3 separate regions of the Homo sapiens genome follow, and all the other regions are linked to region 2. Evidence: fine-mapped expression QTL. A gene starts in region 2. Each other region holds a variant in brackets. All regions are shown on one strand. Distances are from middle to middle. Region 1 overlaps PRKCZ (protein kinase C zeta). Region 2 holds the start of PRKCZ (protein kinase C zeta). Region 3 overlaps PRKCZ (protein kinase C zeta).

Evidence for each region. PIP is the estimated chance that this variant, and not a neighbour inherited with it, causes the effect. A credible set is the group of variants that fine-mapping cannot tell apart.
Region 1: its variant is the best candidate, but not a certain one, in a credible set for the expression of PRKCZ in blood mononuclear cells (TOPMed, PIP 0.89).
Region 3: its variant is the best candidate, but not a certain one, in a credible set for the expression of PRKCZ in whole blood (TOPMed, PIP 0.84).

The regions. Positions count from the first base shown.
Region 1 is chr1:2,072,055-2,081,772 of GRCh38, reverse strand. The region is part of intron 4 of PRKCZ (protein kinase C zeta); the gene reads right to left. Among named protein-coding and RNA genes, the nearest start is that of PRKCZ, 27 kb to the right of the region's middle. The variant T/C (reference allele first, on the strand shown) is at 5,538.
Region 2 is chr1:2,045,474-2,055,191 of GRCh38, reverse strand. PRKCZ (protein kinase C zeta) reads right to left here and starts at 4,781. Exons shown (of 18, transcript NM_002744.6): 1 at 4,491-4,781. The coding sequence starts at 4,561. It overlaps PRKCZ-DT (PRKCZ divergent transcript), which reads left to right and starts at 5,122. Exons shown (of 3, transcript NR_135509.1): 1 at 5,122-5,324; 2 at 5,526-5,594; 3 at 5,724-5,991. LOC105378590 (a long non-coding RNA gene) reads left to right here and starts at 7,745. Exons shown (of 4, transcript XR_007065357.1): 1 at 7,745-7,998. RefSeq lists a silencer at 4,594-5,203 and enhancers at 7,139-7,892, 7,893-8,646.
Region 3 is chr1:2,161,922-2,171,639 of GRCh38, reverse strand. PRKCZ (protein kinase C zeta) reads right to left here. Exons shown (of 18, transcript NM_002744.6): 11 at 2,036-2,122. Among named protein-coding and RNA genes, the nearest start is that of PRKCZ-AS1, 17 kb to the left of the region's middle. The variant G/A (reference allele first, on the strand shown) is at 4,793.

The sequences.
Region 1 (9,718 bases), 27 kb before region 2:
GCAGGGACCTGCCGAGTCCCACACGAGCCCCATGCAGAGCCTGGGCTGCTGACCCTACGGCACTGCCAACTCAGCTGGGAGAAGAGTATGCGGGGTCAGTCCCCCAACCGCAGCCCCGACATCACCACGCCACCAAGTCCGGGCACAGTGTGGTGACTTCTCCCCTCCCCGCCTCGACCCAGCACCACCTTGGCATGATGCTGGAGCTCCGGCTGCAGTACCAATCACCTCCCAGGGCCCACACCCCACACCGGGGTCTGCAGCCATGGGACGTCCTGGCCACACAGGCCCCTTCTGGGGGTCCATGCCCACAGCCCAGACTCGCCCGAGACCCACCTCTGGGCCTGGGACCTGCTTCCCCCTGCTCCCTGCAGCCTGCCCCCTCCTGCCAGAGACCCGTCAGCACCCACCCCCAACCCACCCAGTGTCTGGCCTCATCGCTGCCCCAACAGCCAGCCTGCAGGGGCCCCAGTGCCCAAAGCTGGAACAATCTGAGCAATAAGTAAGCGACACGGTATCCGATTCTAACCCAAGTATGAAATTGACACCTGCGAGTCCACATGAACAGAAAGGAATAATTAAATAACCAATGGGAGAACAGACGTACAAGTCCCGTGCAAAACTTGACATCACGTATGTAGCTCCTCACCTCTTAGGTGTGGGCCACGCACGCCTCACTCCGCAGACAGGACAGCACGGGGGAAGAGGCACGGGCAGGTGTGAGCCGACAAACACACCGCGGCCAGGTGACACGCAAGGCCAGCACGGACAGGCTGCGTGGAGGGTGTGGACCTGGACCCAGCGATATAAGGAGGCTTCACCTCCTCCCAAAACACAAGGCCCCAGTCCTTATGAGAAAAACATGAGGCAAACCCCAGCGAAGGGCTGTCCCACAAAACACCTGACCAGCCCTCCTTAAAACTACGAAGGTCGTTGAAAATGAGGCAAGTCTGAGAGACCTGCCACAGTGAGAGGGACCTAAGGAGACGTGACGGCCAAGTGCCACGTGGGGCCCTGGACGGGATCCTGGGACAGAAAGGGGGCAGGAGGGGAGACTGAGGCAAGCGGAATAAAGCCTTAGCTGGAAAGGTGCCGAGACTGGCTGGTGAAGTGTAACTCACGCATTACGCTGACCAGGAGGGAGCAGGGAGGGAATGCTTGTGCTCTACTCCTGTCCTGATTTTTCTGTAAATCCAAAACTGTTCCAAAAACTGGTCTTCCCACCACCCCACTGAACGAGGGGGTGACAGAACTAAACTACCTGGGTCAAGCATTTGAAAACTGCCCCCAGGTCGCACGGGGGGCAGCATCAAGGAAAAACAAACAGAGGGGCCTTTGCCCTCCTTAAAACCCTGCACCACACCCTCCGGCCCCTCAGGATGCAGAGCAGTGGGACGTGCTGGTCCACACCTGCCACGTCCACGCGCACCGCCACGTCCACGCGCACTGCCCCTACCTAAAGACCTTCTCCAACTCTGGTTTTCCTGCATACTTTAGCCTTCAGAAAGCGTCATCACGATGGTTTCCAGGTGGACACAGCAGCTCAAACACATCACTGACTGACTCTCCCTCCCAAGACCAAAGGAAGAAAAACTCCAAAAAACCCGTAACAGCAAAGAGGAGGACAGGCCGGGTAGTGGATGCCCTGGGACCTGGAAGGCAGAGGGCCCCGTGGCCACCAGGAGACTGTACTGGGCCGAACCCCAAAGAAGGGCCCCAAGTCAGAGGCTCCAGGTAGCAGGAAAGTGGGGCACCTGCTGTGCAGGGTCCCAGTCAGTGAGGAGTCGACCCCCAGACCCCCTTCCTCACCCAAAGCAGCCAGGGAACGAGAGGGCTTGCGGGGGCAGCAGACTCCTTACTAGGGGTGAGATGCCCGGCCCTCCCAGGCAGGACACTCCCCTGGGGACTTCCGCCACCACCAGCTCTGTGGTGCCCCACGAGTCAATGTGGGCAGACAAATGCGGGTCACCAGGGGCCCAGGAAGCCGCAAAGGCCAGGACAAACACAAAAAGGGACTCTCGGTGAAAACAGCTGAGTACGAGGCCAAAGAAAACACCAAAAGGAGACGTTATCACCAACCGCTGCCAGCACACATGCTCCCACCATGTGCCGCCATCAGCAGCAGCCGCGGGGCCAGCGTTGTGGCTTAGTTACTGGCTAATCCCATGATAGCCTTGGGAGCCAAGCCTTTTACCATCACGCTCACTTATGAGGGTCCGGGACACGGTGGACAGCGTTGTGGCCGAGGTCACGTGGCTGGTGGGCAGCAGAGCTGGGGCCTGACCACGCAGCTTCAGGCCCTGGGGCACGCGGCAAATAGCGTGGGCTTAAGCCCAGCCCTTGGGGTTTGAGTCCCAGCTCAAACTGTGCGATTCTGGGAAATTTCTTGACCTGTCTGTGCCTCAGTGCTAATCTTTACCCAGAACAAAGAAAACAATGGTGCCCACAAGGAACTGAGAAGATTAAATGAGTTCACACGCGGGAAGCCTCGCAGCCATGAATGTGCTGGGTGCTGCTCAATCACCACATGATACCGCGGTGCTTCTCAGCCGGGACGAATAACCCCAGAGAAAAAGTGCGATATGCCTTTGACACAAGGGCAGGGCACTCTGCCTTAAAAAGGCACCTTCAGGCCGGGCGCAGTGGCTCACGCCTGTAATCCCGGCACTTTGGGAGGCCGAGGCGGGCGGATCACAAGGTCAGAAGATCGAGACCATCCTGGCTAACACGGTGAAACCCCGTCTCTACTAAAACTACAAAAAATTAGCTGGGCGTGGTGGCGGGCGCCTGTAGTCCCAGCTACTCAGGAGGCTGAGGCAGGAGAATGGCCTGAACCCAGGAGGTGGAGGTTGCAGTGAGCCGAAATCACGCCACTGCACTCCAGCCTGGGCGACAGAGCAAGACTCCATCTCAAAAAAAAAAAAAAAAGCCACCTTCAGAGAAAAAAGATCGAAAGACAAGAACGGGAACAAGGCAACAAACTAACAAACTTAACAGATGGTTTGGACAGAGAAACCTGAAGATGTCTCCTAGCATATAACATAAACAAAGAAATGGAAAATAGAGAAGAAAATTAAAGGACCAGCCTGGGAGGGCCAACAAATAATCAGCGTTAACTCTAAAAGAGAGTCAGAGACGGGGAGTCGGCCATGTGATAAATAACTGGGTGTAAAGCTCCTCACATCCAAATGTCGCAAGGTTCCACAGCACGAGTTCCCAGCACAAGAGACAAAGAAGTTTCCACGACAAGGAACATTATCATGAAACTTGAGAACCCTGAAGACAAAAGATTCTACAAGACTTTCAGGAGAAAAACACACAAAATCAAAATGGCACCTGACTTCTCGGTCACACAAGAAGCCAGAAGACAGTAGAGCGATCCCTTCGAAATGCAGAGGGAAAATTCTTTCCAATACAGAATTTCATACCTAGCTAAACTATCCTTAAGTGTGTGGCTGGAGGAAAAGCATTTTCCAACTAGATCCCCCAAACTGGCCTCCCACGCCATCTTTCTCAGACAGCTGCTGGAGGGTCTTAACCGGACATTAAGCCAAGAAAGAGGAAGAGAGGGAGCCAGAGATCAAGACTGTAGGCAGAGGAGAGAGGAGGGGACTGTTCCCAGCTCGGGGCACAGGGAAGCCCCACGGCATGTTGTGTGGGGGGCCAGGTGCACCAGGAGGGAGGTGAGGCAGGCATCGGTGGGAGCTGCCCCTCTTCTGGGAAGAGGAAACTGGAGTAAATTTGAGACAAGACATCTAGGAAACTGATTTAAACAATCACAATGTATTAACTCCAAGGAAACCCAAAAGTTGTGCCAACAAGGGAATGCAATCATGGTAGCTCATGCATATTCACGTCACCCGCAATTAGGTAAACACTCAATGATTAAAAACAATAAACAGTGACATAACTCCATCAGGAGGATGGAACAAGGAAGGAAGAGATGAGCTGATGTGTCCCAGAGAAAGTAGGGAAGTAACATCCTAAATGGAAACGACTAGAAATAGCAGCAGAAATGTGTCATTTAGAAATCTGGAAATAAATGTCAAAAAGAAACTGCTGTGATCCCCTCCAGGGAGTGGAGCTGGGGCAGCAGGGAGGACCAGGGACACCTGTTCTCTCTTTGTGAGTCCCACAGAACTATCAACACCTTACAATAGAAAATATGGAAAACTCAAAATAAAATTTTAAATATAATGTACAATGCAAACTTTATACACAACCATTTAACAAGGGCAACAACACAATTTCCTGACCAGGACAAGACACCAGGCCTGGCCTGTCTACACTTGACACAGCCTCACGGGATTCTTTCAACAATCAAGGTTCGCTGAGGAACAAACAGAAGAAGCCATCTGGGCCCACGATGCGGCTGAGCTGCCAGTGCACCTGGGTCCCCACAGCCCCAACAGACACAGGGCGGCTCCGTCTTGCAGTCGGTTGAATCTTTTCAAACTTCCCACAGAAGAGACGTTCAAAAAGAAAACTTCAGAAAGACCAGACACACTCAAACCCCCTATTTCAAAATAACATCAAGTCAGGGCCCCTTCCACCCACCAGAGCGCGTGTAAACTCTCCTGTGTGCCCGATACGTGAGCGTGGACGAAACGAAGCCCCAGCACCCTCACACCCGTCAGACGTGCTCACAGCACCGCCAGAACAACCGGCAGCAGGGATCTGTTCGTGTCAACTTGGTGTCTCGCCTCTCCTGACTCTGATCCTCTCTCAGGGGGAACAACAGACCTGTGGGCCCACCAAGGCTGCCCCACAACGGTGGAATCACTGGTTCTGCCTGGAGGCCTCACAGAGAAGCAGCCAGTCCCGAGCATGGTGGGTGCCCTCCTTCGCGTGTTCAGGAGAATCCTAGAAATGAGCTGCCGGGCCCCGATGCGTGGAGGGGCTCTGCCACAGCGTCTCCTGTATGAGTGACAAGTGCCACCACTTTATGACCAAAAACAAGCTGAACACTGGACGACCGACTGGTTCAGGTGGCTTCTTTTGAATAAAGCTTTTCCTTTTTTTTTTTTTTTCAAGATGGAGTCTCGCTCTGTTGCCCAGGCTGGAGTGCGGTGGCGCAATCTTGACTCACTGTGACCTCTGCCTCCCGGATTCAAGCGATTCTCCTGCCTCAGCCCCCTGAATGGCTGGGATTACAGGCGCTCACCACCACGCCCAGCTAATTTTTGTATTTTTAGTAGAGCCGGGGTTTCTCCATGTTGGCCAGGCTGGTCTTGAACTCCTGACCTCAGGTGATCCCCCACCTCGGCCTCCCAAAGTGCTGGTAATACAGGCGTGAGCCACTGTGCCTGGCCTGAACAAAGCTTTTTCTGCCCTTTGCATAAAATGACAAACATTTCTGGAGGCCCAGCATCATGCCAACCCCAGGGGCTGGGAGATGGGGATGCCTCAGGGTGCCTGTCCAGCCTGTGCTGTGAGGGACGGTGGGAGCAGTGGCCGCACGTTCCACTTCCCCCTGCCATGTGAGGGAGGTGGGGAGATGGCCAGGGAGTGAGTGGGCGCCAGGAGACCAGACCTGC[T/C]GAGCCCACACTCGAGCACCACGACCAGCACAGCAAGGGACCTGCTCCTGGTTTTTCAGATGTCATCACACTTTCCCACAGGCTTCCCCTCGATGGCACTGGGCACCCCCTCAGCCCCGGCCCCAAACAGCCCATTCAGGGGCCTGGCCCTGTGACAGCTCCCTGCCCAGCTCCTGGGAAAAGCTCCACGCCAGCACAAGAAAGGATGGCTACCCCACATTTTGGGATCCTCAGCAGAGGTTGGTGCCTGACCCCATGGATGGTCCTCCCGCCCCCCAACAGTTCAACCTCCATGTGCCCGGCTGAGTCCTCGGCGATCAGAAACGTGTGGCAGATGAGACGCAGCCCCCGCTGCTACACACACGAGAGCAGGTCACAAGCACGGGAACTTCTCAGGATGCTCAGTGGGCCTCTCCACTGGGGCCATTGACAGCCCTGGCAGGTCCCCACCAGACCCCGTGGAAGGTCTGGGGCACCCAGTGTGGATGGGCTGGGCTCTCAGGCACCCTGTGGACACTGGGCTGACAGATCTGATTAACTGGGAGCCTCGGAAACATCGCAGCAGAGCCCGGAGCCCAGAGGTGAGTCTGGGAGGTGGGACCAAGCTCGGAGTTGGGCAGAGGAACACACAACTCCTTACATAACCACCAGTGGCTCTGAAGTCTAGGAAGACGGTCGGAGAAGGGCCCCCACTGATGGCTGATGCAGCTGGGACAGGAACGCGGAAGATGTGTGCCGATCTGGCCGAGACACAGACACAGGTACCACAGCCGGCCCCGGCAGCATCAACACGAAACAGCTTCTGGGGGGCAGCCGGTGGCCCCTCCAATCTGTCCCCATCCCAGCTCTGACTCACCCACCGAGGGCCATCAGACCAAAAGCCAGTAACCGCTCGAATCCTGACCCTGGCCACGGCGCTCCCACCCCAGCAGTGTATTCACACCGCAAGGGATCGTGCCAGCTGTGCATGGCCAGCGTGGGCTCACACGAAAGCAGAGGCCAAGCCGTCCCAGGCACCGAGGAAACTATGACACAGCACGTTTCTCCTCGCAGGCAGGCGCACGTGTGAAAACCACCCCAGCTCCGTCTCTCTCCCACTCACCCCATCAACACAGAATCTTCATCACTCAAGGACCCCTGCGGCCCAAGCTGGCTGTGCGGAGCAGCCCTGCGTCTGCTGAGGTCCCTTCGCACCTGGGGGAGGGGCGCGCTGCCAGCCTCCCCAGCAGCCAGCACCCCCCGAGAGGGAAAGCCGCCTCCCCCAGCAGCCCAGTCCCCACCTTCAGCAGCCCAGTCTCCCCAGGCCCACGGCTCCCCACAAGCCTGACTGGGGAGGCTGGTTGTTGTTTTGGTTTTTTGTTGTTTTTTTTTTTAAAAAAAACACCTTGCAAAATGGTCGTCAGAAAAGCACCCACATTCCCACATCCCTGCCAAACACCATGCAGCCCCCAGACCCCTCCGAGTCTACCTCCAACCATTTCAGAATAGAAAACAGGACGCCGCAGCCCCGCTCCTCGCCACCATCCGAGGACCCCGATGGAGTGAGCCGTGCACATTAACCCTGGCTGTGCCACCCAGACTCCAACCCAACACTGTCAATGCAAAACGGGGGCTCAGACAGGCGGGAGGGCAGGCTCGAGACGGAAAGACCGCAGGCCTGGAACAGGTGCTGGCTGTTACCACTACCAGCCCTGGCACCTGGGGTCTCCAGACTTCACCCGTGGTCTCATCAATCTGCCCACCTGCAGCAATGCAGAATGGAGACGAAGCGGCCATCCGTCCTGGCCCCGACAGACCCACAGACCCACAACCAAAAAGCATCGGCCACAGTGAAACTCCCAACAGCCAGCAACTCCCTGGGGCCAGGCAGGCAGACGAGCCCAAGACGATTTCCCCAAGCCCCCCGGCCCCCAGCCCTCCACAGCCACCGCCACACATCCACCAGGCCTGGGCCACACACCATCCGTCCTCGGGGTGAGCATGTCCCTCCAGCAGCCCCTGCCTCGCTCAGAAGGTCCCTCCACAGCCTTATTTTTCTAAAAATCTGTCACCCGCAAAACAACAGCCTCTCACTGCGTTTCCCCTGACATTGCTGGGAGCTGCTGCAGCCGCACGCCTTCCCCGGGCCGTGGCACCAGCCGTGTTGCTGCCCGGAGCATCTGTGCAGCGCACAGGCAGCGGCAACGCCGGGACTCAGACCCAAAATGCTGACTCGGGCACCGTCCTCCGCACGCACAGGGCCTGCAGCACGGCTGGCCCGGCCCCGGGGGCGCGGAAAATCCACGGGGGAGATGCCCCCGACTCACCGGCTTTCTTCTCCTGCCTCCTCAGCGCAGATTCTTTATGCTCTGTGCGCGGCGGGCGTGCAGGGAGGCATCTTCCTTCCCGTTGACGAGCTGATGCTGCGTCGGCTCGCCTCCGGCCCCGACAATAGGCAGGGAGGCTCGAGCGCGAGGAGCAGATATTTAACGGAAGGCCGGCTGTCCTGTCCCCCGCCCCTCACATCCCTGCCTCCTCATGTCTCCAGGCCCGGGTGGTACCCGGCTCCCCCGGGAAGCTGTAGCCAGCAGCTGAGGCACAAACTAAAACACGGCATGGATGTGCAGGAGCTGACGCTGACGTCACAGGAAAACAAGCATCTCTGCATCAGCACAGTCCAGAGAGCGGGCGGGCAGCAGCCAGACCCAGGCAGGGCTCGGACTCAGCGGACCTTGAAAATGCGACATCAGAACAGAACCCAGCTAAGCCCGGGGTCCTGCAGGTTGGCCTGCCAGGCTGGGAGTGGGGGACAGCGCAGCTGTGGCCGTGGCGAGTGACCTCTGACCTGCGTCCAGAGGCTGTGAATGGGCTCGACACCAATGGCCAAGGGCCCCGAGCACTGTCCCGCAGCCCAGGAACGGAGCGGGAGGAGAGGAGGCATAGGGGCCTTGCGATGTGGTTGTGTCCACCCCACAAACCCCACCAGTGTGTGTGGGGACGGTGGGCACTGGGGGGCAGGAACAGGAAAGGCCAAGCTTCCCCAGGCTGAAAACTGTCCCGGCTGGCCTGGAAACGCACACCCTCAGCCTAAGGCAGGAGACACCCGCATTCCCAAGACCAGACCTCACGGGCTGTGCTGTGCCTGGCTGTGGCCAGCCCGGGCTCCTAGGGAGACCCAGAGCCGCCACCGCCGCTGGGTGGCCTGACCCTCCAACCCCTACCCTGGTACCCTGACAAACCCTGGGACCTGGTCATCACTGGCAAGTGAGACCTGGCATTTTCCTCCAATCATAAAAAACATGGGGGGTCGCGGGGTGCTCAGCTGGGAATTCTGCCCACTTCCCCAAACGCACTCGGCACTCGTGCTGAGCCTACATGGGCCGCTTCGCACTGGGGGTGCAGAGGGACAGAGGGGAGTGTCCTGCAGACCTCTGGCTCTGACCAGTCACACCACACGCTCCCTGCATTCATACGTGCTGTGCCCTCGATGCTCCAGCACCTATGGCCCTGCTGACCCTGGAGGGACGGCCCCGAGAGGCCAACCGATTCCTAGAGACAGCAAAGGACTTGTCCCACAGCGAACCTTTCAAATGCAAACCCACCAACCCAGAACTCTCACCTGGGCCCACCTCCTACACGGGCCCCCAGTCGCCCCAGGGGCCTCCCCAGGTCACAGGGACAGCCCCTGCACCCCAGAGCCTGGCTGAAGTTACTCCACCTGGCCGACCCAATGCCTGCTCCCCACACCTTTCCCATGGAAACCACAGTAAAGGCCCCACCCACACATCCCCCTGCCTCCAACCCACCCGGCGCTTGCCCGCATGGCCCCGCGAGGCAAGAGGAGGTCTCCTCTCAGAAGCTGAGTAATAAACGACCTTCTCAACGGCATCATCTCCTGATGGCTGGCCTCCCACACCTGCCTGAACAGTAATAAAACCTCCATTTAAATCATCAAGCTCATAAACCTGTGTTTATCTGCATTCACGGAGTGGACTCCGGGCCAGAGCCCCGGGTTCAAATTCCAGCTCTGTCAGCAGCTCACCACGAGGCACGGCCACTTCTCCAAAGGGCCAAGCTTCCCTCGTCAGGCGGCTGACCAGCTGCATGAGGGGCATTCCGTAAAATGTGAAACATATAAACCTAACACATGCGTTTCACTCGACTTCCCAAATCTATGGGGAACGAGGGCTGGCAACCTACAC
Region 2 (9,718 bases):
GGCGGGTGGATCACGAGGTCAGGAGATCGAGACCATCCTGGCTAACACGGTGAAACCCCGTCTCTACTAAAAATACAAAAAATTAGCCAGGCGCGGTGGCGGGCGCCTGTAGTCCCAGCTACTCGGGAGGCTGAGGCAAGAGAATGGCGTGAACCCGGGAGGCGGAGCTTGCAGCGAGCCGAGATCGCGCCACTGCAGTCCAGCCTGGGCGACAGAGAGAGACTCCGTATTAAAAAAAAAAAAAAAAAAATGACCACCATCAACTTCCTTGCACAGAGAAAAAAGCGCGACCTACCTGGCTGGAAAGAATGAGGACAAAATGGGAGAAAAGAAAGTGCCCTCTTGTGGGAGGTCCGGCAACGTTACCTGGTCGGGCACTCGTTCAAGTTCACCCAAATGTGGGTGACCCCGGGATGGGCGCGAGCCGGGTCGGTGCAGGCCGCCGGCTTCACTAAGGTAAAGGAAACCAGTCAGACCTGCCCCCAGACCTCGACGGTGCCAGCGGTGAAGTGGCGGGGATTAAATAATTCCATAATGAAAGGCCACTCTTTAGACCCCGGAGTGGGCACTGGGTCCGTTGCTGCAGCCACGGCAGAAGCCCCGGCAGATTTTTTTTTTTTTAAAACCGAGTCACACAGAGTCAGTGTGTTTTATCTTTTCAGCCCCAGACAGGACCTGAACTCCAGGGGCTGGGGAAGCTCACGGACTCCCAGGCACCCTTTGAAGGCTGGCACTTCCCTGCTGATAGGGACCCGAGGTCCCCCCTCACCTCCTGCACTGAGCAAGAGCTGGTCTCACCCTGCGTGGAGGGGAGGGACCACCACAGGGCCCAGCTGGTGTTTCCTGAAACTCAGAGCGGGAATCACACCCTTGTGAACACACTGAATTTTCAGAAAAATCTACGGCTTTCTGACACCCACAAGAGCGCGGGGCAAGAGCACAGGGCCTATAAAAAGAAGCCTGAAGGGGTGTGAGATGTCCCAACCAGAGATACAGGCTCTGCTCTTCGCTGACACTGCTGGCTCCCCATCAAGGTTATCTGAATTCATCAGACAAGTTTCAAGAAACAAAGTTCTCATCCCAGACAAGAACTCCAGTGCAAACAGAACACAGGATCGGTCCACAGCCGCGGCCCTGACACAGCAGCCCAGGGCCCACCTGCCCCACAGGCCTCACCCAGTCACCCTGGGCCACCTGGGCCTGGGGGACAGACGCCCCAGCTACCCACCCCTTCCTGCTGGAACTGGCCACCCAGCACCTGCCCCCAGTGCCCAAGCACCCCACAGGAACCAACCTGGCTGGTCTTCGCCACAGCCCACAGCATCATGGCAGATTAGGAAAGTAAGGAATGGAGGGGGGTCACACACCCATCACCCTGGGGTCGCCCCAAGCTGACATCCACGCCTGCTGCCTGACCTGGAGTCCAAAAGTCTGACCACCAGGAACTCCAGAGTGGGAGTCGGCCATCACTTCACCTTTGACCTCTTCCTGCCCCACGCCCCTACCCCTACAGTCCTGCCTCCAGTGGAAGCCAGTTTCCGGCCAATCTAGAGGCCAGGTGGGTGGCTCCAGTAAAACCCCAGGGCTTGGGAAGTGTCAGGCCACCACCTCCAACCCTATCCCAATCCTGAATCAAACAGCTGCCCTGTGCCCTTCAGCAGGGGCGTCCAGGACTCAGCACCCAGCAGCCAGCTGGGCCGCCCGGGAGAGACTCCTGCGTCTCTGTTGGCCTCAGCACCAAGCCCTGGGCTTTGCACACAGAAGCTCCCTGAACACAAACGTTGTCTGAGCTGGGCCAGGCGCGGTGACTCACGCCTTTCATCCCAGCGCTTTGGGAGGCCAAGGCGGGCGGATCACGAGGTCAGAAGTTCGAGACCAGCCTGGCCAACAAAGTGAAACCTCATCTCTACTAAAACTACAAAAGTTAACCGGGCGTGGTGGCGGGCGTCTGTAGTCCTAGATACTAGGGAGGCTGAAGCAGGAGAATTGCTTGAACCTCGGAGGTGAAGGATACAGTGGGCCGAGACCACACCACTGCAGCCTGGGCAACACAGCGAGACTCAAAAAAAAAAAAAAGTCTGAGCTGAAAGAGGGAAGAGCCAGCACCAGTGTTTGTGGCCCTAGAAGAGCGGGCATCTGAGACTCAGCGTGGGAGTCTGGCCCAGGCCACCTGGGACTCCCTGAAAACACAGGTGCCTGGGGACCCCTCAGGCCCACAGGGGGCGGGGTGGGGTGGCGAGGATTGGATCTCAAGTGTGCTCAGAGGGCCCTGGGAGGACAGGCAAGGATGACGGGGTGGCCATGCCCCATGGGGGTGACTGAAGTGCTCTTCCTTTTTCTAAAGACTAGTCTTCCACGTGTCCACGCTCAGCTACCCCCACGGACAGCAGCGTCTCACCCCAGGGACAGAGTTTCTAGGGCTTTCAATAACCCAGTACTCATCCTGGCAGCCGCTTTCTGGAACTGTGTCATTGCCCTAAGGCCTGAGTGTCCCACCCCACAGCCAGTCCCCTCAGAGAGGCACCGGGTGCCCAGAGGGACGAGGAGCCAGAACGGGGAGAAGGGTACTTCACACTCTGCAGCAGAGAGGAGGAGGACCTGGGAGGGGAGAGAGGAGAGAAGGAATGGTAGGAGCAGGGAAGAGCCAGAGGGGAGACGTGCCCTAGAAGGGGGAGGAAGGTGAAGGAAGAGGTGTGGCAGGGAAGGGAGAGAGGGGAGAGCGGGAAGAGGAGGGAAAACAACAGGGAAGGAGGGAGGAAGAGGAAGGGGTGGGGAGAGAGGGGAGAGAGTCCGGGAAGGGAGGGAAGAGGAAGGGGTGGGAGCCTGGTCTCTCCAGCCTGGGAAACCAGAGTCACCGGGTGGAATTACACCCGCCCCACCACCAAAGTGCTCCCAGGGGCCAAAGCAAGGCAGAGGGAGGACGGGGCGGCCCAGAACTCCAGTGGCATTGCCTCCGAGCCTTGGTCCCAGGAATTGGACGCCGGAATGCAGGAGGGTCTGGGCCCCTGCAGCCCCTCGGGTGTGGACCTCCCTCTCGCAGGACTCCCCTGAGCTCCGCACCATCACCTGTTGCCCAGTGTGGTGGCTCCAGAATGGCAAGGAGACAGGAAGCCCAGGTCCCTGGACAAGTCCAATAGCCAGAACGTCAACCATACCAAGTTTTAACCTGCTGACCTCCAGGCCAAAAGACATGGCTGCCCTACCTCTTCAGGTAGGGCTGGACGGTCAGTCCCCCAGAAATCCCTTTCTTCTGGTTCTGGCACCAAACCCGGGCCACTGCACCCCGAAGGTTCCAGGTGCTTGCCACAGGGGAGCTGCAGAGGCCCCAACCTTCCCAAAGAAGAGACAATTGAGCCTCCTCAACAAACCCGGGGCCAAGCAGCCCCAGATGGCTGACCCGAGACCCCAAGACAAGGTTCGCAGGAAGCTGAACCCGCTCAGACTCGCAGGGCACCATAGAGACCCCCGGGGCACTGTCCTGAGAGGACGTGGCCCGGGGAAGTTGTCACCCGCCTAACCCTGCCGGCCGTCCCTGCCTCTGGGGCTCAGGTTGCCCACGCTGTAGCTGAGGACGCACCGGGGCAGGAGCAGCTTTTCGAGATCCCAAGGACCAGCCAGTGCAAGTCCGGAGCCCGCATTCTGCTCCCCTCCCTCTCTGCAGCAGCAGCCACCCTCGCGGGAGCGGAGGTCCCAGTTCGGGGCTCCTGGAGACGCGCACAGGTGGAAGAACAAACCCACGGGTCCTCCCCTCCCCACCGCCCACACTTCGGGGGGCAGCGACCCCTCCGCTGTGCCTGTGAGCCCGGCCACCTGGTGCAGCCCCCGCCACCCCCAGCAGCGCTGCCCCGAGGCGGCGGCCAAGAGTCCAGGACCCCTCCGCTCCAGCACCTGACCGCGCCCCCTCCCACAGCCAGGCAAGGGCCTCCGGGGGGCGGGTGCGACGCAAACCCCAGGGTCAGTCTCGGCCCCACCGTCTCCTCCAGAAACCCCTGTCCCCGCCCGACCGCCCCGAGCCCTGCCGGGGGCTGCATTGGAGCCACAGCGCCCGCGCCCCGGGTCTCCGGATTTTGGCTAAAGCGAGACCCCCGACCGGGTAAACGTGGAGAACGTTTAGGAAACGCTGATTTTAAGAAACCCGCCAGGAGTTTTCACAACTTGATGAAAACTTTCAGTCCTTACAGGTTTGCGGCCGGAACGTCCCCGCCCAACTTTCCAGCGAAAACGTCTACCACAATGACCGGGCCGAGGAGCTCGCGGCGCGGGGCCGACCCCAGGGAAACCCGGTCCCGGGGAAGGAGCCCGCGCTGTCCACGACGTGTCCGCGGGTGACGCTCACGGGCGGGGACCGAGGACCTCCCGCGACAGCCCCGGGCCCGCAGCGACCTCGCCGCCCCTTCCCTCTCTCCCTCTCGCGCAGGAGCCCCGACGGCTGAGCCCTCCCCGCCCTCCCTGCCTCACCCGCGCCGCTCCCCGCCCTCTCCGCCGCTCACCCCCCGTAATGCGCCTTGAGGCGGACGCGGCCGCCGCTCCCTTCCATCTTGGGGCCGGTCCTGCTGGGCATGGCGCGCTCCCCCCGCCGCCGTCAGCGCTGCGCCCCGGGAGCTCCGGCCATGGCGCGGGGCGGGGGCTCCAGGTGGGGCCGCGGCGGAACGCGGAAGGCAGCGCTCAGGACCGACGGCGCCGACCCGGTCAACTCCGCGGAACTCCGGCGGCGCGCGGGGCGGGAGCGGGGGGCGCGCGGGGCGGGACCGTCCGGCGGGGGCGGGGGGCGGTGTCCGAACATGGCGGACCGAGGTGGAGCCAGCGGCCAATCCGCGGGGCGGGCGGTCCCGGGGCGGGCGGTGGCACCTGCGGCCAATGAGGGCGAGGCGGGGCCGCCACCTGGGCCAATCCTCGGGGGACACCCGGCCGCGGCCCAATGGCGAGGCGCGGGCGGGGCTACCTGTCGGGCGGGGCTACCTGTTGGGCGGGGCGCGGCGCACCTGCGCCAATGGGACCGCGCGCGGCGCGGCTCTGCCCGGCAACCGGAGGGGCCCCGGCCTCTGGGACGGAGCGGCGCCCCCGGGAACTCGCTGGAAACGCGAGTTCTCGGCCTTCGCCCAGACCCTCCGAATCGAAACTCCTGCGGCGCGCGCTGCCAGCCCGAGGGCCCCGCCGTCCAGGGGTCCCCTGACATCTCACACTTGCGGACTGAAGCTGCGAGGAGCGGAGAACCCGGCCAGGGTCACGGACGGGAGCGTCCGGACTCGGGTTCTCTGGGCCCCAGCCCCCACTCCGCCCCCAGCGAATCCAAGGTCCCCTGTAGGGAAGGGCCGTCCACACTCGTGAGTGCAACCGCTCACTTCGCCCAGGTCAAGGACGCGGCATTGGCCCGAGTCGCCCATGACCTTCATTTCTGAAGCCACAGCCTCTCGGGCCTTACTCGAGGGGCTTGATCTGGACAATCGCCCTCCAGGCCCCTCCACCGCCGCCCAGCTCCCTGCCTCCTGGGCTCCTCCCCTGAAAATACGGTTTTCCCTGATCAGCCCATCCCTTACTGGCTGCATCCACTGAAGCCCAGACCTGCTGCCTGCAGGACCTCACCCAGGCACCAGGTGGACACCCAGACCCAGTTCCTGGCCTCGGCCCCTCTCCCCTGAGAGTGGACCTGCTCAGGCCACGCCCTCACACCCCTCACCCAGACACAGCCACCAGGACTTCAGCCACGTGCTTTCATCCCGCAGGTCGTGCCTGGCGCCTCCTTGATGCCAGGCCCTGGGGAGACCTGTGGCCACAGAACCCATGTTCTCCCTGGAGATGGACAGGAGGCCCCTCTCCTACGCAGAAGCTGTCGTTTTTTCTTCTTAAACACCGTTTGCCCCTCCCTCCACCCACCGAGCCATCTCTGCCCCTCTCTACAGCAAAGCTTCCGCCAAGCCGGCCCTGCTCCCTGTCTACCTCTCCTGCCACCACCCACTCACACGTTTTAAATACAAGCCGTCGGTTCTCAGACGTTTTCTCTTTTTTTCTTTCTTTTTCTTTTTTTTGAGATGGAGTTTCGCTCTTGCTGCCCAGGCTGAGTGCAATGGCATGATGTCGGCTCACTGCAACTTCTGCCTCCTGGGTTCAAACCATTCTCCTGCCTCAGTCTCCCAAGTAGCTGGGATTACAGGTGTCCACCACCATGCCCAGCTGATTTTTGTATTTTTAGTAGAGACGGGGTTTTTCCATATTGGCCAGGCTGGTCTCGAACTCCTGACCTCAGGTGATCCACCTGCCTTGGCTTCCCAAAGTGCTGGGATTACAGGCGTGAGCCACTGTGCCCGGCCTCAGACATTTTCTTAACTTGGCCTTTGGTATCAGACCCCTCCTGGGAAGGCTCACACATCCCTGGCCCCGGGTTCCAGCTCCCTAAATCTCCCATCCCTCGCCCTCCTGGTCTGCAGCTTTTAAAACTGTGGAGCCCCAGCCTCAGCCTTTGGCCCGCTTTGCATCCCCAGCTCAGATGGGCCCCCTGAGCTCCCAACCAACACTCACCCAGCCCCAGGCATCCTCCTAATGAGCCTCTCAGCTGACGTCTTCCCCCACTCCATCTTTCTGGGTCATCGAAGTCCCCCCAGTGGTTCCCATCACTCCTGGAGGGAAGGCCAGCTCCTCTGCCCCGGCCTCGAGGCCTCTTTGCTGCCCCGGCCTCCGTCTTTGCACGGCCACTCCCTCTTTGCACAGCCACTCCCTCTTCCAGGAGCACCTGCCTGCAGAGATCTGCTGGACTGGCACCCACACTTCCTTGAAGTCTCTAGCATACCTAATGCCCATTTCAGCAATCTACTCCTCACCCCCATCTCCATGGGGCAACCCCCTCTATCCCTCGCACAGGCACAAAGCCCCATGCCCATCAGCTGGGCATGAAGGGGGGCAGAGAGTAGAGGGTGAGGGGGCAGCCTGGCAGGGTACAGTGATGAGTGGGAACCTGCACCTGCAGCAGCCCTGGATTCAGGCACCCGTCGGCCCAGCTCCCCCACTCCAGGCCCCATGGCCAGGGCTGTGGCCTTGTCTGGAGTCTGGCCTGGCAACATGGCCTGGGCGCTTCCTGATGGGCAGGAAAGAGCAGGGTTTCACCTTAGTGGGGCGGTGCCTGGAAGGGGCCACTGGGCACCCACAGGACTTCCTGGCTGGCGTTCTGATCCAAGGAGGCAGCAAGGCCCGGTCCTTGATACCACTGCCCACAGCAGGCAGGACGGACCCTCGGTTGTGTCCTTCCCTGTCACTGGACATCTCTCCCTGGGCCTGCCCCACCCAAGGCCCCGGAGGACCCTTTCTAACCAAGGACGCCCCTGCTGGGTCAGGCCCTCGGCACTGGCCTCCCTGGGGAGATCTGTGCTGCCAGGCGGGAGCCTCCGTCCTGGAAGCCAGTCCCAGGGCCGTGGCAGTGCCCCAGTCCCAGCGAGGGAAGGTGGGGGGCGGGGCTCTATTCTCTCTGGGGTTGGGAGGGAGAGGGCAACGTCAGTGGATGGTCAACCCCAGTGTCAGACTTTGTTCAGCCCTGATGCCGCCGGTGGAGGGGGGGTCGGGACAGACACAGGTTCCGAAAGGCTCTAGCAGAGGACTGCGGGCACAGGGGCTGCCCAAAACGTCCCCAAAACCTCCCCCAGTACCTGCTCTGGCCTCCCCTCCAGGAGGCAGAGGTCTCCGCTAATGAGATCTGCAAAACAAAGGCCTGGGAGGCCCTGGACCCGCCTCTGGGCAGGCAGGGCAGGTCACAGGGAGGTTCCTAGGTCCTCTGCCCTGAGCCTGTGCCCCTGAGAGGGCCCTGAGGGCAGAGGGCGCTTCCTGAGACACGGATAGGCTCACTGGCTGGCGGTGGTGTCACTGTGTCGCCCGGCGACAGATACAGGGTGTTTGCTCTGGAATCTGCCAACGACTCCCATCCAGATCCCGGCTGAGGGCTGGGCCCTGTTAGGCCGGGTCCCCACAGCTTCTCCAGGCACCTGGCACACGGGGAATGAGTGAGTGACTCGGGTAAGGACCCCTCAAGAGTGCTGGAGCCAGGCAGCCTCCTAAGACCCCTAGTGGGTGGGGACAGAGTCATGTCCCATCGAGCCCAGCACACCGAGAAGGCACAGCCCTGGAAGCTTCCAAGGACTCACCCTGGGTCCTCCGGGGCGGGTGGGGTGTGGAGGTGACCCTTGGAGTGGGCAGGGCAGGCTCCGAGAGAGGCCTCTGGGTGGCTAAAGGCCAGGCTTTTCCACCTCAGCAGTTTCTGTAGCTCCCAAATTTTTCATAAAGTTCTCATATACTTTCATAATCATAAACACCTATTATTTTTTAAATGAAAAAAACAAGTTATGAAAGTCACACTGACTTTTTATAAAACTCAAGCAACACAGAACGGTATAGGGCAAGGTGAAGCCTTTTCCCAAAACCCCAGCTAAGCAGCAAGAACCCCGGCCGTGAAGCGGACAGCCTTCCCTCTCCCAGTGCAGGCAGCCTTCCCTCTCCCGGTGCCTGGGACCGCAGGTGGAGGTGCTAGGTGACCGCTGGGGCTTGGGGTAGGGTGCTGACCGGCAGAGGGCAGTGTGGCTGCAGGGTCTGGCTGAGGGTGGCCTCCCAGCAGGGCTGGGGCACCTGGGAGCCGCAGCTCCTGACCCCGCCAAGGTGGCTCTGTGTGGCTGCCGGGCCTACCCTGTGATTTTCCTTAGGAAGAGTCCTTTGATGATACTGTCGAGTGATGTTGAGACCTTTTAGAAGAGAGGCAGTTTACACTCAGTGTGATTCATCGGACGTCTGGGAGGGGTTGGCTGTGGCCCGTGGGGTCCCCATCACCACACCCCCAGGAGGAGGCCTCCCTCATCAGCCTCTTAAACTGCATTTGTGCTGGCTTAGTGCTTGGGACTGCCCAGAAAGGTGCCCGACAGGAGCAGGCATCTCACAGAGCCCAAGGGGCCCGGGTGGGTCTTCCTGCCAGATGTGAGGCTGCCCTGTGGGGTCCTGCGAGGACCACCGTCACAGGAAGGGCCAGGCGTTTGCTCACAGGCTCTGGGCACAGCAGCCGTGGGAGGGACTGGCCAGATGTTTCCTTTCTGTGTCAGGGATCATGGGATTTGGAAAAACTGGCTCAAGAGACAATGTCAGCTGCATGGGTTCATTTGATGGACGTTGGTTGAGGGCCTACTGGACGGAGGGCCAGGAGTTGAGCCAGGAATACAGCAGTGAGCTGGCCAGGCGGGGTCTCCTGGTGGGACGCTGCTGGAGACGGGCCACTGTCAGAGAACCACAGGAGTGCAGAATGGCTGAGACGGGCTGACCAGGTCCCCGGGGGAGAGGCTGGCCCCGGGACTGATGATGTGTGCAGTGGGGCAGCTCTGTGGCCCCAGGGAGCAAGGGCTCTGTGAGTGAAGGGTGCAGGGAGTGTGAAGAGGCCAGGCTGCCCCAGCGAGGAGGGTCAGGGGAGCCTCAGACAGGGTGTGGGGTGTGAGTGCCTGTGTGCTTATCTGAGTCTATATGTGTTTGTGTCTGTGTGTATTGTGTGAATGCATACATGTGTCTGTGTATGTGTGTCCACGTGTGTGTATAGATATGTCTGTGCTTGTGTGTCTGTGTTGACGTATGTGTGTCTATGCATGCATAGATGTCTGTGCGTGTGTCTTTTTTTCCTGCTTTTTTTTTTTTTTTAGGCAGGGTGTCACTGTGTCACCCAGGCTGGAGTGCAGTGGTGCCATATCTCGGCTCGCTGCAGCCT
Region 3 (9,718 bases), 120 kb before region 2:
TCCCAGCACTTCGGGAGGTCGAGGCAGGCAGATCACCTGAGGTCAGGAATTCAAGACCAGCCTGGGCAACATGGCGAAACTCCGTCTCTACTAAAAATACAAAAAAATTAGCCGGGTATGGTGGCGCACACCTGTAGTCCCAGCTACTCTGGGGGCTGAGGCAGGAGAATCACTTGAACCTGGGAGGCAGAGGCTGCAGTGAGCTGAGATCCCACCACTGCATTCCAGCCTGGGTGACAGAGCGAGACTCCATCAAAAAAAAAAAAAAATTAAATATGACCTTTTTTTTTTTTTTTTTGAGACAGAGTTTCACTCTGTCACCCAGGCTGGAGTGCAATGGCGCGATCTTGGCTCACTGTAAGCTCTGCCCACAGGTTCACGCCATTCTCCTGCCTCAGCCTCCCGAGTAGCTAGGACTACAGGCGCCCGCCACCACACCTGGATAATTTTTTGTATTTTTAGTAGAGACAGGGTTTCACTGTGTTATTTCACCGTGTTAGCCAGGATGGTCTCGATCTCCTGACCTCGTGATCCGCCCGCCTTGGCCTCTCAAAGTGCTGGGATTACAGGCGTGAGCCACCACGCCCGGCCTAAATATGGAATTCTTATGTGGTTAGCAATTCAGTTTCTGGGTGTATACCCCAAAGAACCGGAAGCAGGGTGTTCAAGAGATTACTTCACACCCATGTTCACAGCAGCACTGTTCACCATGGCCAACATGTGGATGCCACTCAAGTGCCCCCCGAGGGATGGACGGATAAGCAAAGTGTGGCCCCTCCATCCAACGGGGCATTATCCAGCCTGAAAAAGGAAGGCAATTCTGAGACAGGCCACAGCACGGATGAATCTTGAGGACGCTATGCTCAGGAAAATGAGCCACCGAAGGACCAACACTGTGATTCCACTCCGATGAGGTCCCTAGAGTCCTCGAATCAGAGGGACAGAAAGTGGGACGTGCCCGTCTGGGGTGAGGATGTGAGGCTGGGGCGGGGGACAGGGAGGGAGTGTCTGATGGGCCAAGCTTCAGCAGGGAAGAGGGGCGTGCTCTGGAGATGAGACGGGGGCCAGCAGTGGCTGCAAAGCATGGGGTGCATTCAACGCCACTGAATTCCATGCCCCAAAATGCTACCTTTTATGTTGTGTGTTGCCACAGTTTTTAAAAACAGCGTTGTGGGAAGTGTACTGTTCTAGATTTATTGCCTACTGTCCTATTGCCAGAAACAATCTAAGGTGACTCACAAAACTGCATGCAACGTTCTTAAGTAAGGAAATGAGGAAAAGGAGAAACTACAAAAGACAGGAAAGGTCCAGGGAGCTGAAATAAGCCCCCAAACGGTCCTGGAGGTCCCGCGGCTGCCGGGGGAGGCTCCTGAACCATGCTGGAGGCCCCTCGGCTGCCAGGGGAGGCCCGAAGATATCAGAGATGAAAGGGAAGGGCAGGAAGGAGTCTCTCAGGTCACTCTAGAAACAGACCACTCTCGTTCTGCTCCTAACGCTGAGGAAATGCTGGCCATGCTGTGCCACTAACAGGGTGAAGAGCAGAACCAGGGCAGAGCCACCATGAAGACAGCACAATCCCAGGAGACTCTCACTTCTCTCGGATGAGGCATGGTGCTGCTTCAGGGGTGGGGCCTGGGGGACTGGTCTGAGGCACCATAACTCAGGAGACCTCCCAAATGTTGTGACTCTGGAGCAAATATGGAATGTGTCACAATGCAGGGGACGTCACACTGTGGGGGACATGATGCCCTCTGCCATCCTACCTGGACTTCCCTCCCTTGAGCTCCCTGCTGACCCCTGGAGAAGGTCCCCGGCCCCCTCCACGTGCACCCCGCCCCCCCCGCCCCCGTCATACCCCCTCCGTGCACACCCCACCCAGCCACCTCCCCTCTGCGCACACCCACCCGGCCCCCCAACTCCGCGCGCACCCACCCGTCATCCCTCTGTGCGCACCCACCCAGCCCCCCAACACCGCACGCACCCACCCATCCCCAACTCCGGGCGCACCCACCCGGCCCCGTCCACGCGCACCCACCTGGCGTGCTCCTCAGGGAGCTTCCTCTGCCTCTGCATGTGGAACATCAGGTCCCCGCCGTTGACGTACTCAATGACCAGGAACAACCTGCAGGGAGAGAGGCGCCGGAGGCTGCAGTCACCTCGGCAGACGGCGGCCTCCTTAGACAGAAGCCCCACAGAAGCGGCCTTCGTGGGCCCGAACCCTCCCGCAGGTTCAGTCTTGCAAAGAGCAAAGAGCAGCAGGAGCACCCTGGCAGCAGAGAGGGGCTGGTGGGGACGGGCTGCGGGGCCGCTCGTGAAGGGTGCAGGTGAGGGAGTCATGCGGGGGCCTCGCCGGCCTTCACTCTTGGCCACTGTGTGTGGACTTGGGAAGTGTGGGTGGGCCCCGGAATGAAGGAGGTGGCCCGTCACCAGGTGGGAGTGGAGGTGGCTTGGACCAGGGCTGGGGGCTGGGACAGGATCTGCTGGGGGCTGGAGCGAGGCAGTTTCTTGCATGGGGACAGCACCGCAGGTCACGGGTGGGGTGGCCTCAAGGCCTGATTTCATTGCTGCAAGGCTGAGGAGTCCACCGGCCCTCCAAGGGAACAAGCTGGGGTCAGGGAGAAGCCAGGTGGGAAGTGGCATCCCGGTTTCGCAGACATGATCGTATGATTTTAAAAGATCCGCAGATGTCATCAGGACCACGCAGGCCCTTCCCGTCTCAGGGACTGGGCCACATGGTTTCTCTTCCTAATAAGATCTTTTCCTACATTTCATGAGACTCAATTTTCAAAATTAAATTCTCATACAATCTCCCAGAAATACCCTGTGGCGGGTTTTTTTAGGTCAGCGGCTCCTCTGGCACCTGAATTGTTTATTTGCTTCCGACTGGTGGCTGCTCCTGGCTGCCCCTCGTGGAGCGGGGAGTGAAGGAGGGAAGCGTGTGGTGACTCTGCCCGTTTCCTTCGATCCCACGCAAGCTCCCACACCACCGCCACTGTTACGCCTCAAGGCACCTGTCCCTGCTCCTGCCCTCCACAAGCTCCCAGAATTAAGCCAGAGAGGACAGAGGCCAGTTTACACAGGGCAGGTGAACTGGCTGCAAATCATCTGTGAAGTTTCTGATTGGAAACAAACTCCTAAAAATCGAAAGAGCCCTGGGCCCCAAGTGAGGAGCTGGAGAGACGTCCACGTGGCCAGTCGGGCACCCTGAAGAATAAGCCGTGCCTTTGGGGAGCGGCTGGGGAAGGCTCGTTCCTCGGCTTTTGTTGTCTCCCCTGCCTCCAACGGATGTGCCTGGAAATTCTCTGGTAACCTGGCCCTTGTCCTTGGGGACTCGCTGGTCCACTGCTCCCTGTTTTGTAAATAAAGTTTTATTGGAACGAGGCTATGCTCACTGGTGCATCTATTTTCTATGTCTGCTTTCCAGCCACCGTGGCAGAGGGAGTTGCTAACAGAGACCCTGTGGCCGCAAAGCCAAAAATGTCTACTCTTGGGCCCTTCAAGAAAAAGTTTGCCAATCCCCGGTATAAACAAAATAGCAATGACAGAAAGAGCAGCTCTGAGGGTGCCCTCGATGTGCAGGAACGTCCTCAGTGCACCCGTGGAGGGACTCGTTCAGTAACGTCAACCCCACGGAACGAAGCTCCATGAAGGCCTCCAACCCCTGGAGGACACCCACGACCTAAGAGTCGGTCAGAAAACGTTAAGAAAGAATTTATTCAAAACCCTTAGAGTGCCTGGGCGTGGTGGCTCACGAGGCCTGTAATCCCAGCATTCTGGGAGGCCAAGGCAAGCAGATCACCTGAGGTCAGGAGTTCGAGACCATCCTGGCCAACATGGTGAAACCTCATCTCTACTAAAGATACAAAAATGACCCAGGGCTGGTGGTGTGCACCTGTAATCTCAGCTACTCGGGAGGCTGAGGGCAGGAGAATCGCCTGAACCCAGGAGGCACAGGCTGCAGTGAGCTGAGATTGCGCCACTGCACTCCAGCCTGGGCGACAGAGCAAGACTCTGTCTCAAAGAATAAAATAAAAATACAAAAAACCACAAAAACCCTTAGGGTGACTTCACCGCACATTTTTTGCCACCAGGAGTTACACGCCCCAATGGGTGCTGGTCCCTTCCACCTGTCCCCCCGAGAGGAGCCACGTTCACCCCAACAGTGCTGCTGCGGCGCCTGGGAAGGGCCTCCACGGCCTCTGTGGGTTCATCCTAACTTTAAGCTATCACGGCCCATAGGACGGGGACAAAGCCAATGCCATTTCCAGAGAAAATAAAGAAATACATGAATTCTAGAGAAAAGCATCAATACAATGCCTCAGGAGGCTGAGAGAATTTGGGGGACATTTAAACACTTAGAGAGGTAGAGGCGGAGGCCGCTTCCCCTTCTTCTCCAGAGAAAAGCCAATCACGGGAACTGTGCTGAAAGCCAGTTCTCTCTGCCCAAGGCCTAGGACCCAGGCAGCTTGCTGAGGAAGGAATTTATTTAATTTGCAACTGCTCAAGCTGCAATGATGGTGGGGTTTTTTTGTCTACAGAAAAACCTTAATGCTACTTTTGACATTTCTTCAGAGCAAAAACCCACCAGGACAATCTGGTGTCAATTCACTCTAAGGCGACTCTGCGTGACACAAGCTGAGCTGGCTGCTGACAAGATGCCTGGGACCATGGCTGAGCATGCTCCGAGCCCACTCCTCTCCTCACGCTGGTGGTGTGCACCTGTAATCCACATGGGCTCGGCCCACTTGGGTGCCCCACAGGCGCTGTCCTGCATAGAGGCTCTCAGGCAGGG[G/A]CGCAAGGCCAGGCCAGGGGCGTGTGTGGCTTCACCCGTAGCCCCTCAGTGACACACACAGTCCTGACCCCAAGGGATGCTGGGAAGCACAGCCTGGGGGTGGGGGTGGGGGGCTGAAGGTGCCCCTCCATGTCCTGGTAGCCACACTCGCCATGTCGTGGCCTGGGGGGGGCTGAGGCTGCCCCTCCGTGTCCTGGTAGCCACACTCGCCATGTCGTGGCCTGGGGGAGGGGGCTGAGGCTGCCCCTCCGTGTCCTGGTAGCCACACTCGCCATGTTGTGGCCTGGAGGCGCTGGGGATGCCCCTCCCTGCTCCCTGTCCTGGCATTAACGCTCCTCTCATGTTTGCAAGGGGAGAGGAGCAAGCAGAGCCCAGATGGGAGGCGGGAGGCGGGAGTCATGAGACACGTGCCCTCGGGGCTGTTTTTCTGAGACAAGATCTCACTCTGTCACTCAGGCTGGAGTGCAGTGGTGTGATCATGGCTCACTGCAGCCTCGACCTCCCAGGCTCAGGCAATCCTCCGGCTTCAGCCTCCCGAGGAGCTGGGACCACATGCTTGCACCACCACCGCCAGCTAATTTTTAAATTTTTTGTAGAGAAAGGGTCTCGAGATATTTCCCAGGCTGGTCTTGAACCCCTGGCCTCAAGTGATCCTCCGGCCTCAGCCTCCCAAAGGGCTGGGATTACAGGTGTGAGCCACTGCACATGCCTGTCCATGATACTTAATCAAATACACAAACGTGAAGAACGCCAGCAAAAATGGATTCATCAACAACCAAAGACAAAGTGCAGCTCTCAGGAACCAGGCGAGACGCAGACCGCAGCCGGATCCAGTCCCTGACCCTGCCCTGGAACCGGCACCATCCAACAGACATGGGAAATGGAGGGACAGTGGCCGCAGGGGGATGCTGGAAGCTCACGAAACCTCCTAGGGGGCGGCCGGGGGCTGAGGGAAGCTCACAAAACCTCCTAGGAGGTGGGCCCTGTCCTTGGTGCCGCCCCCTCCTCGCCACTCCCCCCACCCCTTCCAGGAATGCAAGGTGCCCGGCTCAGAGGGAGGAACCACAGCCCTCTCCTGGAGGCACAGGAGACGCTGCCCTGAGAGTCAAGAATTAACCAGATGGGTCCGGGCGGGCCACCACCATGTGTGTACAGAAAGTTCTGGTGGAACACGGCCACACGCGTCCCTTCACGCAGTGTCTAAGGCTGCTTCTGTTTTAGAACGCATAGTTGCCACAGAGGCCGCATGGCCCACAAAGGTGGAAATATTTACTGCCTGACCCTTTAAGACAACCTTTGCTGACCGCTGGTGTGGCCCTCAGTAAGCGTCAGTCTCCAAGTCCCTCTGTGTTAACGCACTTGACCCCATCACCAGGAAGTAAGTTCAGCTCTCGCCATTTTACAGATGGGGAAGCCGAGGCACAGACAGGTTAGGGGACGTTCTCCGGCTCACACAGCTCCTGGCTTGTCAGACCCAACATCAGATGACTCGGGCGGGCCCAGAACCCTCACTTGGAAACCCCACTTCCAGGTCCTGTCCCCACCTCACAGCGGACATCACAGCGGTGACAGCACCGTCATTACAGGGCACGCTGGAAAATCAGATTCCTGACTCGGAGAGCAGGACGGACATTAAAGCTCTGAGGAAGACACCAGCAGATGAGGAAAGGCGGTAAAGCTGAATCCACAGAAGGATTTTACTTCGTCCAAAGAAATCTACTGGTGGGGATGCTGGCAGGCCTCGGATTTCTCCATCAAAGATAAAAGGCCAGAAAGTGCCCAGGAAATGCACTCGAGCACTGGAGGGCAGTGTGTCCCAGCGACAATGGGGCTCACGTGCAAAGGCAAACACGGGTGTCCTCAACATGAAAGGACGCATGGGAGGCAGCCCCTCACCTTCCTGGAGCCAGGAGACACGGCCTGGGGTGAAGTTGAGCAGAGGAGAAGGCAAGGCAGGGTGCAGCCGTGGGACTGGGTGAGAACACCCAGCCTCGGCAGGGTAAAGCTCACAACATCACGAAAGCCAGGGCGGAGCGAGGCAGCTGCCCTCCACGACACCCAAGGCCCGGCAATCGCACAGGGATCCCGCCAAGAGGTAATAACGCAATTTAGAATGTTCCCGGGAATTGAAAAATTAGGAAAATTTAAAAATCCAATGAAGCTTGCACAAGAAAGGGAAGCTAGAGATCAGACGCCAGAGTGTGCAGGGAACGCTCATGGTTTTAGGCTGCCTCGGCATCCATTCTGGATCTAAGCTGGACTTTCTCCCACCAGAAGCAGGGCTGTCGCCCTGACAGTTTCCAGTTCCACATCCCCCATTCCTCGAGCTGGCCCATCCAGACACCCACCCTATGCAACTGCCCCCTGGTGACTTCCCTGCAGCCCCACTGATACCACACCCAACATGGACTGTGCAGCCACACTGCAGAGTCCCCCGACAGTCACAGTGTGGCCCCACGGAGCTCAGGCCTGCTTGCTTTAAGTCCATCAGTTAAAACTTCCCATGGGAAACCTGTGTGCAGAACACCCTGGACCCAATAAAGGGTCCCTGTCTCTCTTTACGCTCCCTGGCCTCCCAGCAGGTTGTGTACCCCCAAGGCCTGTGGGTGACAAAAGGTGTGTTTCCATCCTGTGTCTCCCTTGATCACTGGAGCAGTAGCTCTGTGTCCTGAAGATTCTAAACTAAAACAATATGAATATCAACCAAAAAAAATCCTAAATAAAATATCAGCAAATTGAATTCAGAAGCACATTAACAGAGTAGCACACTAAGACAGGGCACGGTTTTCCCCAGGAATCTAAGGATGGTTCAATACCAGCAGCTACATTACGATGACACCATTCATTCCAGGAGGCCCTAAGGAGTAAAAATCGTAACAATGATCTCCACAAATGGCAAGGAGGCCCCTGCACAACTTGCAGTGTTCTTCTTTTTTTTTTCTTTTTTTTGAGATGGAGTCTCGCTCTCTCGCCCAGGTTGGAGTGCAGTGGTGCAATCTCCGTTCACTGCAAGCTCCGCCTCCCGGGTTCACGCCATTCTCCTGCCTCAGCCTCCCAAGTAGCTGAGACTACAGGCACCCACCACCACACCTGGCTAATTTTTTTTTTTTTTTGTATTTTTAGTAGAGACGGGGCTTCACTGTGTTAGCGAGGATGGTCTTGATCTCCTGACCTCGTGATCTACCCGCCTCGGCCTCCCAGAGTGCTGGGATTACAGGCGTGAGCCACCGCACCCGGCCTCAGTGTTTTTTCTTGATAGCAAAACAGAAATGGGTGGAAAGTCCCTTAATAGGACAAGTCACACCTCTGCATGCAGTTATCGGTCATCTTCTCTCAGCTTCACGCTGCTGCTCAGCCTTTCTAGAACCTTCTCCCAGTGGCTGGGGGCTGAGAGGCTGTATGTATCATTGCCAGGGCCTTTGCCAGCAGGTGTCCTCAGAGACCAGATGATGGGCCCAGGAACTGGGAGGGTCCGTTCCCGTCTCCAACAGCTCAGGCAGGGACAGCTCCTCTGTGGGCTCCAGAACCCAGTTCCACGGCTGCAGGCAGAGCCCCTGTCTCTCCTCTCCCCTGTGGCCCTCCCAACACCCTTTGCACATGCCAGGGCAAATGCTGCCTGCCCGAGATGGGTAAATGCTTCCGTTCTGCCTTGAGGATGGCACTGCGCTTCCGGTGCAAAGTGTTCCAGCTGGGGTCAGGAATAGGACAGGGCCGTCCAGTGTCAACGTCACCCCAGTGAGGCAGGTGCTGGCCACTGTCACCAGAGAGGAAGATGAACAGAGACGGCACGACCTGGTTGCAGCGGCTGAGGTGGGTGATGCTGCCCCACCTGCAGATGCTAACCCTGTGCATCCAAAGCCCCAGAAAACCACCTGAAAGTTACTACAAGGAAGAACTCAGAAGCCATGAAAGTTACTACAAGGAAGAGAACTCAGAAGCCATGAAAGTTACTACAAGGAAGAGAACTCAGAAGCCATGGGGCCCACAGTTACCACGCAGAGACCAAGCTGCCTGCTGCTGGATGCTCTGAGAGAAGAAAAAATACCTCGTTTATAACAGAAACGAGATGAAACACTCAAGACAAAATTAAACAAGGAAGTGGCCAGGCACCGTGGCTCACGCCTGAAATGCCAGCACTCTGGGAAGCTGAGGTGGGAGAATCGTTTGAGCCCAGGAGTTTGAGACCAGATTGGGCAACATAGCAAGACCCCCATCTGTAAAAATAATAATAATAATAATTAGACAAGGAAGTGAAGAAAACCACATGAAGACTTCAAGAGTCTCCTGAAAGAGGATGTGAGTGAATGAAAAGGTAAACCGGGTTCCTGAATGGGAAGATCCAACACTTAGAAGGATGTCAATTTCGCCCCAGGTAATGTGTGAACTTAACAAATCCCAATGAAAATGCCAGTTTCGGGCCAGGCCCAGTGGCTTACACCTGTAATCCCAGCACTTTGGGAGGCCCAGGCAGGTGGATCACTTGAGGTTGGGAGTTTGAGACCAGCCTGGCCAACAGGGTGAAACCCCGTCTCTACTAAAACTACAAAGATTAGCTGGGTGTGGTGGCAGGGGCCTGTATTCCCAGCTACTCGGGGGGTTGAGGCATGAGAATTCCTCGAACCCAGGGGGCGGAGGTTGCAGTGAGCCAAGATTGCGCCACTGCACTCCGGCCTGGGTGACAGAGCAAGACCCCTTCTCAAAGAAAAGAAAAGAAAATCCCAGTTTCTTTTTCTTTCTGGAGGCAGACGGGTTGATTATAAAGTCCACATGGAAAAATAAACAAGAGAAAAGGAAAAACGAGGCAAAACTGTCTGGATGGTGACGCTGGTTAGTCAAGGGTCTTTGGAGTGCGGACGAAGGTTCTTTCCTGCACGTTAAAATGGGATACAAGTTTATAAAGAGGCTCTTGTTTTATGTGGTCTCTGT